2 separate regions of the Homo sapiens genome follow, and region 2 is linked to region 1. The links come from fine-mapping of genetic effects on gene expression. Tissue or cell type: blood mononuclear cells. Region 1 holds a variant in brackets; the other region holds the start of a gene. All regions are shown on one strand. Distances are between the middles of the regions. Region 1 holds the start of HHIPL2 (HHIP like 2). Region 2 holds the start of TAF1A-AS1 (TAF1A antisense RNA 1).

The links.
Region 2: TAF1A-AS1 starts here. The variant in region 1 is fine-mapped to the expression of TAF1A-AS1 in blood mononuclear cells (TOPMed, PIP above 0.99).

The regions. Positions count from the first base shown.
Region 1 is chr1:222,547,423-222,555,762 of GRCh38, reverse strand. HHIPL2 (HHIP like 2) reads left to right here and starts at 7,659. Exons shown (of 9, transcript NM_024746.4): 1 at 7,659-8,039. The coding sequence starts at 7,719. It also overlaps a transcript of TAF1A not described here. The variant T/C (reference allele first, on the strand shown) is at 3,983.
Region 2 is chr1:222,586,599-222,594,938 of GRCh38, reverse strand. It overlaps TAF1A-AS1 (TAF1A antisense RNA 1), which reads right to left and starts at 5,019. Exons shown (of 3, transcript NR_110613.1): 1 at 4,977-5,019; 2 at 4,532-4,681; 3 at 2,306-2,773. It overlaps TAF1A (TATA-box binding protein associated factor, RNA polymerase I subunit A), which reads left to right and starts at 5,006. Exons shown (of 11, transcript NM_005681.4): 1 at 5,006-5,212; 2 at 6,374-6,496. The coding sequence starts at 6,376. RefSeq lists enhancers at 3,973-4,505, 4,506-5,039.

The DNA of each region.
Region 1 (8,340 bases):
CTTCATTACCTCTACATAATTACCATTATGTATGTATTGTGTATGTATGTGTGATGAGAAGATATAAGATCTTTCTTAACAAATTACAAGTATGTAATACAGTACTGAACTGTCATCACCATGCTGGACATTGGATATCCAGAAATCGTTCATCTTGTATCACTGAAACTTTGTACCATTTGACCAATATCACTCCATTTCCCCCTTCCCTCAGCCCCTGGCAACCATCTTACCCTCTGCTTCTATGAATTGGACTCAGATTTCACATACAAGTGAGATGATCGTGCAGTATTTCTCTTTCTGTGTCTTGCCTATTTTAATTTTGCTCAGCATAATGTCCTCCATGTTCTGAATGGCAGGATTTCTTCCTTTTATAAGGCTGAGCAGTATGTAATTGTAATTTTATAAACCCTATCTTTATTCATCAAAGGACGTTGAGTAATGCTGCAATGAACATAGGAGTGCAGATATCTCTTTGCAACCTTGATTTCAATTCTTTTGGGTATATACCCAGATATTTCTATTTTCAATTTTTTGGGGGAACCTCCATATTGTTTTCCATAATTTACATCCCCAACAGCAGCATACAAGCGCTTCCTCTTCTCTTCATCCTCCCTAGCACTTATCTTTGACCTTTGATACGATTCATTCTACCAGGTGTGAGGCTGTATCTCCTGGTTTGATTAGCATTTCCGTCGTGACTGGAGATGTTGAGCACTTATTCATATACCTGTTAGCAATTTGAATTTCTTTTGAGAAGTGTCTATGTAGGTCCTTTGCCCATTTTAAAGTGGAATTATATTTTTGTTATTGAGTTGTATGAGTTCTTTCTATATTTTGGATTATTAGTCCCTAGCTGATTAATTATATGGAATGTGAATTACATCTCTGTAAAGCTGTCAACACCCCATTCCCTTCCCACCTCCCCTCATAAAAAGAAATAAAAGAATGTTCTATGGAGTCAGAAAGGTCTGGGTTCAAATTCCAGCATGACTGAAGCCCCCCACCTAGCCTGGGCCTCACCTTTATTCTGTAAAATGGGATGGTCTGGAAAGGTTGATGTAAAGTGCTGAGCATGGGTCCTGGTAAATGTTTTTTCTCAATAAATAGAAACATTGTTTTATGTTAACATTTTTGAAAAAGGAAAAGCAACAAAAATTAAAAAAACAGATAGGTGTGCCCTTTTGGACCCAGTTATTTACCTATATTTACAGCACAAGGGCTTTTTCTGCTGGATTGAATTAGAATCTTTGTATTTTAAATATTCCAAAAGGAAACAAGCAAGACCTTTGATGGATGGTCTACAAATAATATGACTAACATCTGAATAAGTCAATCCAAGATTCATGCTTCTAAACCAATCTGCCACCAGGTAAGAGTCGACTCAGTCCCATAAAAAATACGAAGCTGACTTCTATGTTGTTTTCATAGTTATGAAGGTAGCCTTTAGCTCAGTGAGTAGAGGCGGCTCTTTGTTTCCGCCCGTCAGTCCCATAGTGATACCACTGCCAGTTGTTTAATTACAACTCCCCTCCTGCCTATACCAAGAACTCCCAGATAATCTTATCAATGGAACTGAATCTTCAGTCAATACACTCTTCAGTAGGCTGCATCAGACAAATTTTTCCAAATGAAGAACAAATAAAAGTGATAACTACTTTCGTTCTTTTTGGGTACATCCTGATGGAATGAAAAAGATCTGGGCTGTAATTCAGAACACCTGAATTGTGTTGCCATCTCTATTCATCTAAAGTGGGGCCCTAAAATATTTCACTGAACCCCTCTTGGACTTCATTCATTCATATGCTCACTGGTAATATATCTACCTTGCTGACTTAATTGTCTTGAGAGAACTGAAGATCAAATGAAATGCAGTGTGGGGAAATACTTTGTAAACTGTAATGCTTCGTACAAGTGAGTTGTTATACTTTCTCTAATCTGAGGTACAACCTGTTCATCTTTAGACTGTGACAGAGGGAGTCTGAAGGCAGATAGATAGTTACATCAGTAAACTATATGAGAAGCTACTGAGCTAGAACATTTCTTTTTATATTTTTTCTGTTGTGTTCCATGACCTGATTTAGGATAAACACCTGACTCTCAACATCACTTTTTAAAAGGCACTTGCACTGGACATGGTGGCTCATGCCTATAATCCCGGCACTTTAGGAGGCCGAGGGGGATAGATCACTTGAGCCCAGGAGTTCAAGACCAGCCTGGGCAACATGGTGAAACCACCGTCTCTACAAAGAAAAAAAAAAGTAAAAATTAACTGAGCGTGGTAGCACACACCTGCAGTTCCAGCTACTGGCACTCCAGCCTGGGTGACACTGAGACCCTGTCTTGTGCGGGGCGGCGGGGGGGATGTTAAAAGGCACATGCTATATGAAACTGTGTGCGTGTGTGTGAATGTGTGTGTTACTGCTGTGGGCTGAATTGTGTCCCCTAAAAAAGAATGGTTGAAGTCCTACCCCCCAGTACCTCAGAATGTGACCTTATTTGGGGATAGTTTTTACAGAGACAATCATGTTAAAATGAAGTCATTATGGTGGGCACTAATCCAGTATGACTGGTGTCCTTATAAAAGGGGAAATTTGGACACAAACGCACACAGGGAGAAGGAGCACCATGTGAACATGAAGACAGAGCTTGGGGTGATGCATCCACAATCGGAATGCAAGATTGCTGGCAGACCCCACGAAGCTAGGGATCAGGCATGGAGCAGTGTCCCTTGCGGCCTTCAGAAGGAACCAACCCTGCCAACATCTTAATCTCAGACTTCTGGGCTCCCGAGCTGTGAGACAATACATTTCTGTTGTTTAAGCCACCAAGTTTGTGGCTGTGTTAACAGCAGCCCAAGCTAATTTTTTAAAGGATTATGTTTGCTTCAAAAGTGGAAACTGAAGTGATTTCAGATACTCTGTCTGGTCCTAGCTTATAGTTTCAGAGTTATTTTATAAGCTCACCTAATGTTCAGTGAAAATGTCTTTTCTGTTCTTTTCCATCTATAACTTATCTAAAAGCTCCAGTCAACTTTCATTATGATATTCTTAATCCCCTGCAGCCGAATGTCATCTCTCCGTCCTTGGGATCCCTAATGGCAGTTTGTTCCTCCCTTACTGTTACCTTAATCTTATATCTGCCAGTATTATTTGGATACTTTCATCCTTTTTTCTCAGAGCATAAACTCCTTGAAAAAGTTTGTTTTATATGTCAGTTTTCTGTTAAACATTTCTATTCCAGCATAATACTTCACACAAAATAGTATGTATTTACTGAATTGACACCAAGACATCTTTTGTAAAATTATTGCATGATTATTATATAATTACATATATATGTATATAGACAGAGCCTCGCTCTGTCACCCAGGCTGGAGTGCAATGGCGCAATCTCTGCTCACTGCAACCTCCGCCTCCTGAGTTCAAGTGATTCTCCTGCCTAAGCCTCCTGAGTGGCTGGGATTACAGGCACATGCCACCACGCCCAGCTAATTTTTTTTTTTTTTTTTTTTTTTTTTTTTTTTTTTTTTTTTTTTTTAGTAGGGACAGGGTTTCACCTTGTTGGTCAGACTGGTCTCGAACTCCTGAACTTGTGATTTGCCCACCTCGGCCTCCCAAAGTGCTGGGATTACAGGCATGAGCCACCATGCCTGGCCATAATTACATACACGATTATATCTAAAACGTAGTATCGTCTGAAATGTTACATATTTTAGTAATCAGAAACTCATGCTGTCACTGTCTGATCAGATTCTGCCCGCCCATCTTTCCCTGCTAATCTTGCAGTGACTCTGCTCAAAACAATAAGATCTCCATATTGTTCACGACAAAGGGGAAATCGATACATAAATGTCATGAGAAGATCAGAAAATACTCTCAGGTCCTACCTGGATGAGATAATGCACTCATTCTTCCATATCCCAGGGTTTGATGGTTCTGAGAAGGCAGTGGGGGTGAATTCACTGGCTGAAATTAGTCCA[T/C]GTTACTCCTCCTGCTTAAGGCTTCCAGAAGCATGACATTCTGTGACATTTGAGCAAATAACCCAGAAGAAATAGCACAGTCAACAGTGAATCATGGATGACATTTATTTTATTTTAATTTTAATTTATTTTGAGACAGGGTCTCACTCTGTCACCCAGGCTGAAGTGCAGTGGTGCAATCATGTCTCATTGCAGCCTTGAACTTCTGGGCTCAAGCAATCCTCCTACCTCAGCCTCCTGAGTAGCTGGGACCACAGCCATGCGCCATCACATCTGGCTAATTTTTTATTTTTATTTTTTTTTCTAGAGACAGAGTCTCACTATGTCGCCCAGTCTGTTCAAACTTCTGGGCTCAAGCCATCCACCCACCTCAGCTTCCCAAAGTGTTGGGATTATAGGTGTGACCCATGTTTTAAAAAGCACCACTCAACTAGGTATATTATATATATATATATTTTTTAAACAGAGTCCCACTCTGTCACTCAGGTTGGAGTGCAGTGGTGTGATCTCGGCTCACTGCAGCCTCCACCTCCTGAGTTCAAGTGATTCTCCTGCCTCGGCCTCCTGAGTAGCTGGGATTACAGGCGTGTGCCACCACACCCAGCTAATTTTTTTATATTTTTAGTAGAGACAGGGTTTCGCTATGTTGGCCAGGCTGGTCTCAAACTCCTGGCCTCAAGTGATCCACCCGCCTCAGCCTCCCAAAGTGTTGGGATTACAGGCATGAGCCACTGCACCCGGCCAACTAGGTGTAGTACTGAACAGTACAAATAGGAAAGCAGGACTATTCTGATGATCATTCTGACTACTCCCTCCTATCTATCTATCTATCTATCTATCTATCTATCTATCTATCTATGCATCTATCTTTCTGCCTACCTACCTATCTACAGGATCTTCCTGTGTCACCCAGGCTGGAGTGCAGCGGTGTGATCACAGATCACCACAGCCTCGAACTCCTATGCTCAAGCAATTCTCCCACCTTAGCCTCCCAAGTAACTAGGACTACAGATACACGCCACCACACCCAGCTAATTTAAAAAATTTTTATAGCAACAGGGTCTCACTATGTTGCCCAGTCTGGTCTTAAACTTTTGGGCTCAAATGATCCTCCTGCCTTGGCCTCCCAAAGTCCTGGGATTATAGGCATTAACCACACCTGGCCAATTTTGTTTGTATTTTAAATGCTATTTGGGGCTTTCATAATCCAGAACATTGTGAGTATAGACTTGGCTAGACTGAGGTTCACTGTCCCTTCTTGATGATACCCTGGCAAATACTGTTTCTGGCGATGAGTTGGGCAGCCAGGTAGGGCACCCTCTGAAGCAGCACATCTGGAACAAGAAGAAACTTGGACTTCATCTGCGTTTCAAACAGAAGCTTTTGCCAGTAAGGAAATTCAAGGTGGACCAGAACCATGGAAAATGCTGAAAGGAGAGTTAGCTCAAGTGCCAAATGTCCCCATTGGCCTACACCTTGGCTCATGCTTGTTTGGGTTTGGGGCTGTGTGAGTTTGGGACTCCTGTTCTGCATTTATTCATTCAAGAAATATTTATCAAAGCCTGTTATGTGCAAGGGATGTGGACAAAGGAAAACACGTTTTTATTTTATTTTATATTTATTTTATTATTATTACTTTTTGAGATGGAGTTTCACTCTTGTTGCCCAGGCTGGAGTGCAATGGCACAGTCTCAGCTCACTGCAACCTCTGCCTTCTGGGTTCAAGCGATTCTCCTGCCTCAGCCTCCCAAGTAGCTGGGATTACAGGCGCCCGCCACCACACCCAGCTAATTTTTTTTTTTTTTGAGATGGAGTCTTGCTCTGTCACCCAGGCTGGAATGCAGTGGCATGATCTCGGCTCACTGCAACCTTCGCCTGCTGGGTTCAAGCAATTATCCTGCCTCAGCCTCCTGAGTAGCTGGGACTACAGGCATGCGCCACCATGCCCAGCTAATTTTTTGTATTTTTAGTAGAAACGGGGTTTCGCCATGCTGGCCAGGCTGGTCTTGAACTCCTGACCTTGTGATCCGCCCGCCTTGGCCTCCCAAAGTGCTGGGATTACAGGTGTGAGCTACCACACCTGGCCGCTAATTCTTGTATTTTTAGGAAAGATGGAATTTCACCATGTTGGCCAGGCTGGTCTTGAACTCCGGACCTCAGGTGATTCACCCGCCTCGGCCTCCCAAAGTGCTGGGATTTCAGGCATGAGCCACTGTGCCCGGCCACAAAACACATTTTTAAAATACTAATGTGGGAACATATACTAAGTGAGGAGGAGTGTCCCTACAGCAGGTATAGATTTGGCAAAGGAAGGCACCCAGTTGTCCTGTGCTTCCTGAGGAAATTGTCCCAAACAGTCCTTGTTGATTCCTTGTTTTCACTGGACCACCTCCCTCTTCTATGGTCTGAATGTGTCCCTCCCTACCTCAGATTCATAGATTGGAATGTAATCGCCAATGTGATAGTATTAAGAAGTGGAGCCTTTGGGAGGTGATTAGGTCATGAAGGCAGAGGCCTCATGGATAGGATTAGGGTCTTTATAAAAGGTCTTGAAGGAGTGGATTTGAACCATCCTGTCCCACCATGGGAGCAACAAGTCACCATCAATGAGGAACAGAGCCCTCGTCGGACACTGAACCTGTTGGCATCTCTTATTTTTTTTTATTTTTAGAGATGGTCTTGCTCTGTTGCCCAGGCTGGAGTGCAGTGGCGTGATCATAGCTGACTGCAGCCTCAAACTCCTGGGCTCAAGCAATCCTCCTGACTCAGCTTCCCAAGTAGCTGGAACTACAGGTGTGCACCACCATGGCTGGTTAATTTTCTTTTTATATTTGTAGAGACGGGGTCTCACAGCATTGCCCAGTTTGGTCTCAACCTCCTGGGCTCAAGTAATCCTCCTGCCTCAGGCTCCCGCAGTGCTGGGATTACATGCATGAACCACCATGCCCAGCCCCTACTGCCATCTTGATCTTGGACTTCCCAGCCTCCAGAACTGTGACCAATACATTTCTATTATTTATAATTACAGTCTGTGGTGTTTTGTTACAGCAGCATGGACTAAGATTCCCCTTCTTTTCCTTCACTGTGTCCTCCTTCCTCTCCTTGGTCCTTACTGTGGATGCAAGATTCATGAAATGCCCTCTCTTCCTACCCTTCCAAATATACACCTTGCCAGATCCCAGGAGCTATACAGCACACCCTGCCTCCTGCCATGGCCCCTCCATATCTCCCACCGCCTTGGGGCCCTTCAGCACTGTAGAAACGCTTGAAGCTTTCCTTCTACAGAGTGTGAAGTCTGGGATGATGTAATATATGGTGCTCTCATGGTGACTCTGGGCCTCTCAGCCTGTGAAGAAACATAAAAAAGTGTGAATTTCCGGGCATCCCCACAGACAGCAGGAATTCTTTGCAGTTTTAAGGAATCGAGCACCTCTGCCATTGACACCACTACACTTTTGGCTAAGCAAAGGTGTGCCCCCATAACACTAGCAGCACTAGAGTGGGGCTTCATGTTTAGATGGGTTGGGGGAGGGGGGAAGGGACACCTCCCACTGCTTTCAAAGGGAGCCCACAGAAGGGACACTGCTCAGAAACTACCTCAGCAGGGAGGGGCGGGGAAGAGGAGGAAGGAGGAGAAAACAGGGTGGAGTAGGGGGAGGAAGAGAGGGAGGACCTTGGGCAGAGCAGGGAAGCCAACCTGAGCAAACACAGCAGCCCGAGTGTTCCCAAGGCCAAAATGCTGAGAACGTCCACTCCTAATCTGTGTGGTGGTCTGCATTGCCGGGCCCCCTGGCTCTCTTCTGGCATTCTCTGCCTCTGCCTCATATTCTTGTTGGGCCAGGTGGGCTTGCTGCAGGGACACCCCCAGTGCCTGGATTACGGGCCCCCTTTCCAGCCCCCTCTGCACCTTGAGTTTTGCTCTGACTATGAGTCCTTCGGCTGCTGTGATCAGCACAAGGACCGCCGCATCGCTGCCCGGTACTGGGACATCATGGAATATTTTGATCTGAAGAGACATGAGCTGTGTGGAGATTACATTAAAGACATCCTTTGCCAGGTAGTGAAAAGTGCCTTCCAGCCCCAGGGGTTTGGGTGCTGGGCTGCATGGTGTGGGTCCTGAGCGGAGGGTGCTTTGGGAGCCCAGCCCTTTAGAAGTTCATGTGCCGGGTGCCTCATCTTGGAGCTGCCGGCTTTGGACACGCACACTGACATGAGTGTGTGCTGAATTTGGTCTCCATGGGTTCCCCAAAGCTCTCCCTCTGGGATTCTGCTGGCCCTGATTCTTCTCCAGGCTCCAGGAGAATGAGAGGGACACTCTTCCTGGAGCTCTCAGAGCAGCCATTATTTGCCACACTCCC
Region 2 (8,340 bases), 39 kb before region 1:
AAGCATAATTGCACAGAAAAAAATATTTAAGACAATAATGGCTGAAAATATCTCAAATTATCATAAAAGAAATGGACAAATCTAGGAAACTCAGTGAATGCCAAATAGTCTAATTACAGAGAAAATCACACCTAGACACATTATGGTCAAACTGCAAATAACCAAGTATTGGGAAAGAAAAGTTTTGCAGGCAGTCCGAGAAACATAATACATTACACATGGACAAAAATAATAAAGTGATAGCTGACTTCTCATCAAAAAGAAGAAGTTAACATCATCAGAGGGCTTAAAGTGCTGATGGACAAAAACTGCCAATCCAGAATCCTATATCTAAAGAATCCTTCAAAACTGAAGGCAGAATAGACATTTTCAGATAAATAAAAACAGAAAATTCTACACCAATAGACCTCCACTGTAAGCAATGCTAAAAAAAATTCTTCAGGATGAAAGACGATGACATACCAGATGGAAACTGAAATCTGTAATGTTTTAGTTATTCTTTTGATGTAATATATTTAGTAATTTAAAATAATAATTATTTATTATTTCTACCTATTCTATAGCTTTGCTTACCTGGATGATTCTCCTGCTCTGGATATTATTGGCTGGGGTCACTCAGGTGGCTGCATTCAGCTGGATGCTTAGCCAGGGCTGGAACTTCCAAACTAGCTTCATTCACATGTCTGGTAGTTCAGCTGTGTGGCTGAAATGGTTGGGATGGTTGGCTGAAATGTTTTTCATTCTTTAGTAATCTACCCTAAACTTACTTATTTGTTGGCCAGCTTTCTAGAGGATAAAAGTAAAGGTGTATGGCTTCTTAGGGGCTAGGCCTAGAATTGGTATGACATCATTTTCACCATGTTTTGTTCATCAAAGTTAAAAGACCAGCCCAGATTCAAGGGGTGGGAACACAGACTTTATTTCTTATTTCTTTTTTTTTTTTTTGAGACAGAGTCTCGCTCTGTCACCCAGGCTGGAGTGCAATGGTGCAATCTTGGCTCCCTGCAACCTCCGCTTCTCAAGTTCAAGTGATTCTCCTGCCTCAGCCTCCTGAGTAGCTGGGATTACAGGTATGTGCCACCACGCCCAGCTAAATTTTTTTTTTTTTTTTTTTTTTGTATTTTCAGTAGAGACAGGGTTTCACCATGTTGTTCAGGTTGGTCTTGAACTCCTGACCTTGTGATCCACCTGCCTTGACCTCCCAAATTGCTGGGATTACAGACGTGAGCCACCATGCCCAGCTGATTCTATTTCTTAAAGGGAGAAGCAACATGCACATACAAGAATGTGAATACTTTTTGACAGCTATTCTTAAAGATAATTCACCACAAACAGGAAGGAATGAAAAGAACTGGAAATAGCAAAATGTAGGTAAATACACAAAAGGTAATATATACTTTTCTTCTCTTAATTTCTTTGCGATACATATGACTAAGGCAAAAATAACAATGTGCATAGATATGATATATATGACAACAAAGCACAAAGGACTTGGGGAGGTGGTAAGTAGAACTTTACTATTGCAAGGCTCTTTTATTTTACATGAAGTATCATAATTTTAACTCTAAGGCTGTGATAAGTTAAGAATGTATATCATAATTCTCAGAAACACTGTAAAGCAATAATGCAAAAAGATACAGTTAAAGCCAACAGAGGAATTAAGATGAAATATAAAAACATTAATTAACCCAAAAGAAAGCAGGAAGTAAAGAACAAAGGAACACAAAACTGAATGGGACAAATCGAAAACAAATAGCAAAATGATAGACAAACTCAACTATCTGTTGTCTATAAGAGAAGCACATTAAATTAAAAAACACAGGTTGAAAGTAAAAACATGGATAAAAATATACCAGTAAACAGTAAGCTAGGAAGGCTGCAGTGGCTATACTAATATCGGATGAATTAGACTTCAAGATAAGGAGTATTATCAGCAATAAAGACATTTCATAATGATAAAATGGTCAATTCATCAGGAAGACACACGAACCATAAATGTTTATATGCCCAATAACAGAGCTTCAAAAATGCAAAAGAAAAGCTGACAAAACTAAAGTAAGTGGCAAATTCACAGCCATAGTTTAAGTTTTACACTCCTGTATCAATAATTAATAGCAACACTACACATAAAACAATCAATACAATATAGAAGATCTGAAGACAACTATTAACCACCTTAATCACGTTGACATTGATGGACACAATGCTCAATAACTACAGAATACATATTCTTGTCTAGTGCTCACAGAACATTCACCAAGATAGACTATATTCTGGGCACAGTAAGTCTCAAAAAAATTTTAAAGTATCAAAATTTCAGAGTTTGTTTTCTAACCATGGCAGAAATAAACTGGTAATTTCCAATAAGACTAGTCATAAAAAAGATAGAAGATGCAAATGATCAATGTTTGTGTTTCATTTATCTATTCCTATGTAAGAAATCACTGCAAACTTCAGTGGCTTAAAATAACAACCATTTTATTGCTCACAGTGTTGTGAGTCAGGAATTTGTGTAGGACTCACTGAGAACAGCTCATGTCTGCTCCATGTGTTGTCAACTGGTCTCACTCATGTAGTTAGATTCAGCAAGTGCCTGATTTAGGATACACAGTCTGAGATGAATTTCTTCACGTGTCCGAAACCAAGATGCTGACTGTTGGTTCCATGTGGCCTCTCTTTCCATGTGGTCTTTCATACTGCAAGAGCTCTTTCTTCACGTGGCCACTGTCTCCAGCAGGATAGACTGGTCTTCTTTTTGTAGCTGCTCAGAGTACTGAAACATGAAAAGAAAAAAAAAAGAAAAAGGAAGAAAAACCTGTGTCTTTGAGGATACAGTCCCTGGGGTGGAATTCTAGCCCATGTATTTTGGTTTTCTCTATATTATTATCTGAGATGTTTTTATTTTTATGCTTTCATGCCACATTCCTTTTTTATTCTCGTTAGCTGTGATATAGGATAGTCTATTTATGATGAGGTCTCTTCAACTGTTTGGCTATGTGAAGTTTGTTCTTTAATAGATTGCACAGGAAGCGTTCATGGAAATAATATTCCTTAAATGACAGTTTGCAACTTTAAAAACAACATAATTCATCACCATATTAAGTTGCTCTGTAGCACAAAGTAATTGTAAGAACATGTTTTTCTTAGGACATGTTTTCTTATAGATTGAAATCTAGAAAAGTCTTTGCATGCTTTATGTTTTCATATTTGTCATGCCTTTTTTTTTTTTTTTTTTGAGACATGGTCTTGCTATGTTGCCCAGGATGGAATTGAACTTTTGAGCTCAGCGATCTTCCTGCCTCAGCCTCTGGAGTAGCTGGGACTACAGATGCCTGCCACGGCAACCTTCCCTCCTTCCTTCTTGTTTATGCTATTGGATGTGATCTAGTTGATTTTTTTTATCTCTTCTCTCCAACACATTTTCTGTCAGAATTGCAGCATGGGAAAGAAAAAGCATAGGTAGGGCACGTTTCCTACTGCTCCTTAGAGCTGTTTGAGAACTTCGAGGAAAATCTGAAAGCTCTTCCTCATTTTCGGGAGAACATAAACTTTTTTCCATGTAAAATCATTTCTGGGCTGGTTTTGGTGAATTTACACCTCAAGCCAATGGGAGAAAAGTAGCCAGACTAAGCCTCTAGACAAGAAAGTAATGATTATGTATGTTATTTTGTGTGTGGTCTCCTGGACTACGCATAATTTATGTTAGCCCTGCCTGTAGAGTTAGAGCACAAGCTTGAGTGAGGACTCAAGAACTAATGACAGAGAGAGCAGCAGAAGGAACTTTTCTTGCAAGTCCTTAACTACTGCATATTGTTTTATGCAGAAGACAACATAGAATCAACTATTTGTAGCATTTTAAGGAATCCATGTACAAAATTTTTTTTGACAGGGTCTCATTCTGTCGCCCAGGCTGGAGTGCAGTAGGGTGATCACAGCTCACTGCAGCCTCGACCTCCCTGGGCTCAGGTGATCCTCCCACCTCATCCTCCCGAGTAGCTGGGACTAGAGGCATGCATCATCACCCCAGCTTATTTTTTTTTATTTTTATTTTGTAGGGACGGGGTTTCATCATGTTGACTAGGCTGGTTTCGAACTCCTGAGCTCAAACTTTCCGCCTGCCTCGGCCTCCCAAAGGGCTGGGATTACAGGCATGAGCCACCGCGCCCGGCCTCAAACTCTTACCAGACCCTTTAATTTCCTCTCCGATACTCCGATTCTACTCAAACTGTTCACCTACACAGAGGAAACTCAGTGATTCCTGGGGGAGCCTATGCTATATTTGTGCATCCTCATTTGTGGACAAAATTCTTTCTTGCTGTGACTTGAAAGCAGCCTCCCTTTACCTTTCACTTATTAGTCCTAGTTCTGTTCTCTGCTGCTAAGAAAAAGGGTCTGATCCTTCTTTCACTGATCAGCCCTCCAAATATTGGAGAAGCACACTGCGTTTCCATGGGCCTGCAGTCCTTTTCCGGGATCATCTTCCCTAGAACCCCTCAACTGTCTCTCATTTCACACGGTTTAACCATCTTACCTTTAACCCATATTTCATTTGTTTGTCTCAATGTCCCTCATGAAAGTTGACCCAGACGGGTCCGCAGAACAACTTTTGCTGAGAAGGCAAAGGAAATTCTCGCCCAAATTGTGGAGAAGGCAGTCGAACCAATTAAACCTAAAGCTAAAACTGTAATAGAAAAGAACTTTCAAGCTCGCAATGAAAAGGCTATGCATGGATTTATCTCATCACAGCCACTAGCCACACCTCCACTCGTGCAGTGCGCCTGCGAGCCGAGCAGAAACCAATGGCCCATCGTAGTGAATTTCTCGGGTAAAGTGACATTCTCCGCTTTTGAATGCTCCCTTCGCCCAGCCGCCAACCCCTCGCCCCAATTTCCATTTTAAATGAAAGTCTCCCACTTTCTAGCTGAGACAGACAAAAATAAAACTCGGGCAAAACCAATCGCAGAGAGGCAGCTCACTGTCACTTCCTGGGTCACTTCCAGAAGTCACTTCCGGGGTCGAGGCGAGGCCAACGATACGCCTGCTGCAGCAGGAGGAGTTACGAGCCGGGCCGCGCGCTGCCTAAATACCTAAACCAGGTTTAGCGCCTGCTCATATAAAGCTCTCCTAACTCGTCTTCCGGTGGGAATTTCTTCACGTGGGCCGGAGTCGGAGACTGAGTTTAGCTTTACTGAGGAGCTCTAAATTTAGGCGGGTAAGTGCCGCAGATATCGCCCGTGGTTCCTGCGTTTAAATGGAACGGGAAGGGGTGTGTCAGGATTCATCCATGTTCTCCTGATATTTCCTCCTAATACCTGAAACCCTTGGGGTCTGAAAACGAAAGAAGGGGATAGAGAAGCTTTGGTTGCCGTGGCAACTGCGGGTCACCAATTTGGGTTTTTGAGGATTTGGAAAGGGAGGATTTGTGTAACTACTCCTGAAAACACGTGATGGGTCGGATTCAAATTCAGTTGTTACTTATAATTCATACTCCTAGCCACATGCTTTGAATTTAGAAGGTTTACTCTGGGTATAATGCAGAGATGCAAAATCTGAGCCAGGGTAATTGTTTAGAAAGCTGATGCGGTAATCTAGGCACTGTTTGAAGGGGTCTTGAACTAGAGTAGTGCTGTAGGATTGAAGAGGGGAAATAGGGGAAATTTGGAGGTAGTATCAGGGGCACTAATACTCGATTTCATATGGGTAATGAGGAAGGGGCCCTGAGCATCTTTAGGAGTAAGTCTAAACTCACCTTGGCTTATGATGATTTTTCTAGGTTCGTTTCTCACCTTCCGCACCCCTCCTCCACACGCACCTCGAATTCTAGTCATGCCAAGTAGTTTGGTGTTCTATTTCCTAGACTATCGTCCTCACCATTTTTTGTGATGTTAGGCAGGTTCCATCATTTCACTAAGCCCCTCAGTTTTTTCAACCTTCACATGGAAGAAAGTAATAGTACCCACCTCAGGATTGCTGTGGGGATTAAATTAGATAATTTATACTTCTAGTGCATAGTAAGGGCCTAATAAATATTAGCTGCTACTTCTATTCTTACTGTACTTTTCATATTGTTTTGTTATTATACGTTTTGCTGTTTCTTCGTCTAGACTTGAGATTTTTTAAATTAGAGGGGCAGTATCTTATTTATCTTTACATGGACTTGAAACATTAGTGGTTCGGTCTTTAATGGATCATTCATTTTGGCTGTTGCTGACATAGTTAAATTCATTTTTTACTTTAAAAGAGCTGACAGGTATAATGCATTTTGCTAATCAAATTATATTTATTAGATAAAAAGATAGCCGTTTTTCTGTACAACTCAGAAGACTGTGGATTAAGATGTACAGAAAGTAACTGATATCTCATCTTGTAATAGGTATGAGTGATTTCAGTGAAGAATTAAAAGGGCCTGTGACAGATGATGAAGAAGTGGAAACATCTGTGCTCAGTGGTGCAGGAATGCATTTTCCTTGGCTTCAAACATACGTAGAAACTGTGGGTAAGTAAAATAATAACATTGAGCCATTTTAACTTTAAGGAGGTGGTAAGATTCAATAGGGATACAAAATGAATAACCAGACTGGTTTAATTTTCAAGAGGAATATGTGGAGGGTTTTTTGGCTAAAAGCCAAAAGAAATCTTTTTTCTTTTAGAATTCTTTGCCCTTGGATTAATAATAGATAGTCTGTATTATGCTAGATACACATTTTTTCCAGTAATACTTACTGAGCACTTTTATCTCTGGCATTGATTAAATATTGGGGAGTCATAGGTGAAGATATGGTCTCTGCCATTGAGGAAAACATGCCTAGGAAGTGTTCAAGAAGTTGCTGTTGAATTGCATTGAAATTATTTCGAATAGAATTGATCGTGTAATAGATTTTTTTTTTTTTTGAGACAGAGTCTTGCTCTGTTGCCCACGCTGGAGTGCAGTGGCTAGATCTTGGCTCACTGCAACCTCTGTCTCCCAGGTTCAAGTGATTCTACTCAGCCTCCCGAGTAACTGAGATTACAGGTACCAGCCACCACGCCTGGCTAGTTTTTGTATTTTTAATAGAGACAGGGTTTCACCATGTTGGGCAGGCTGTTCTTGAACTCTTGACCTCAAGTGACCTGCCCACCTCAGCCTCCCAAAGTGGTGGGATTACAGGCATGAGCCACTGCACCCGGCCTAGATAAAAGAGCATTTTCCCCCATTTTTATCTAATGTAAATGCAAGCATGATTTTCTATGGGATAAAATTTCCCCCATTTTTATCTAATATAAATGCAAGTATGTTTTTCTATGGGATAAATTCCCTATAAGAATATATTTAATATAAGTATAAATAAAAGAAGCTATTATCTGTATGCTGGCATATTGAGTGGTATAGTCCTGGGATTACATTTGAACCAGCATTTTACTTACTGCCCTTAAATATGTGTTTTTTTGCCCAGCCTTTTCTCCCCTTGACAGAGATTCCTTGGCTCCTAAAATTTCGCTTCCATTTTTTTCTTTTGATCTAAGTATCATCCCATTTAATGATCTCAGTAAATTCTCAATAAATTTTTATGCTAGGCAGTTTAGGTAGGATGAAACTGAATCTCAAAGACATTAAACTCTTAAGTGGTATCAGGAGTCAAATCCAGGTTTGTCTGATCTCAAAGCTTACACTTTTAACGACTGAGATGCATTTTTAAAAATGAGACAATATATGTAAAGTACCTAGCATAGTATCTCATGCATAATGAGTGTTGAAAAATAATAGTGCCTTTCCTCTCCTCATTTTATTTTTGCTAGATTAATGCACATGGCTTAAGGCAGATTTGAATGAATGATACTTCAGAGGTAGTGCTACCGCATCCCTGGTAGGGAACAAACTAGTAATTTAAATTTCCTATAGTTAAGTCATACTTGGGTATGTTTCTGTTACCAGTGTTCTATAGAAAGTCTGAGTCAGTCTGCAAGCAGATAGGTTTAAGACCAAAGACCAAAATTTACATGCTTAGGAATATTTTATATGTCATGGATAGCCTGTTAAACCGAAAATACTTTTGGTCTGCAATGAGAAAATACTTGCAATTAATATTGACATTGTGCTGGTAATTAACCATAATAGGAAAACAAAATTGCCTAACAATTGTTCTATTTATTTTTTATGCTGGTAGATATCTTTTGGCTTTTTGAAGGGCATGCCCAGCAACCCCCTTAGAATAAAAACTTTGAAGACAGGGCCAGTCTGGATTGAAGCTGTATGATGAGTACCTGCGATAGTGCTTGGGACACAGTGGTGCCCAAAAAATACTTGTTGACAGATTGATAAGTTTCCAGATTCTTTGAGTAGCATATTAGAAGTTAGGTTGA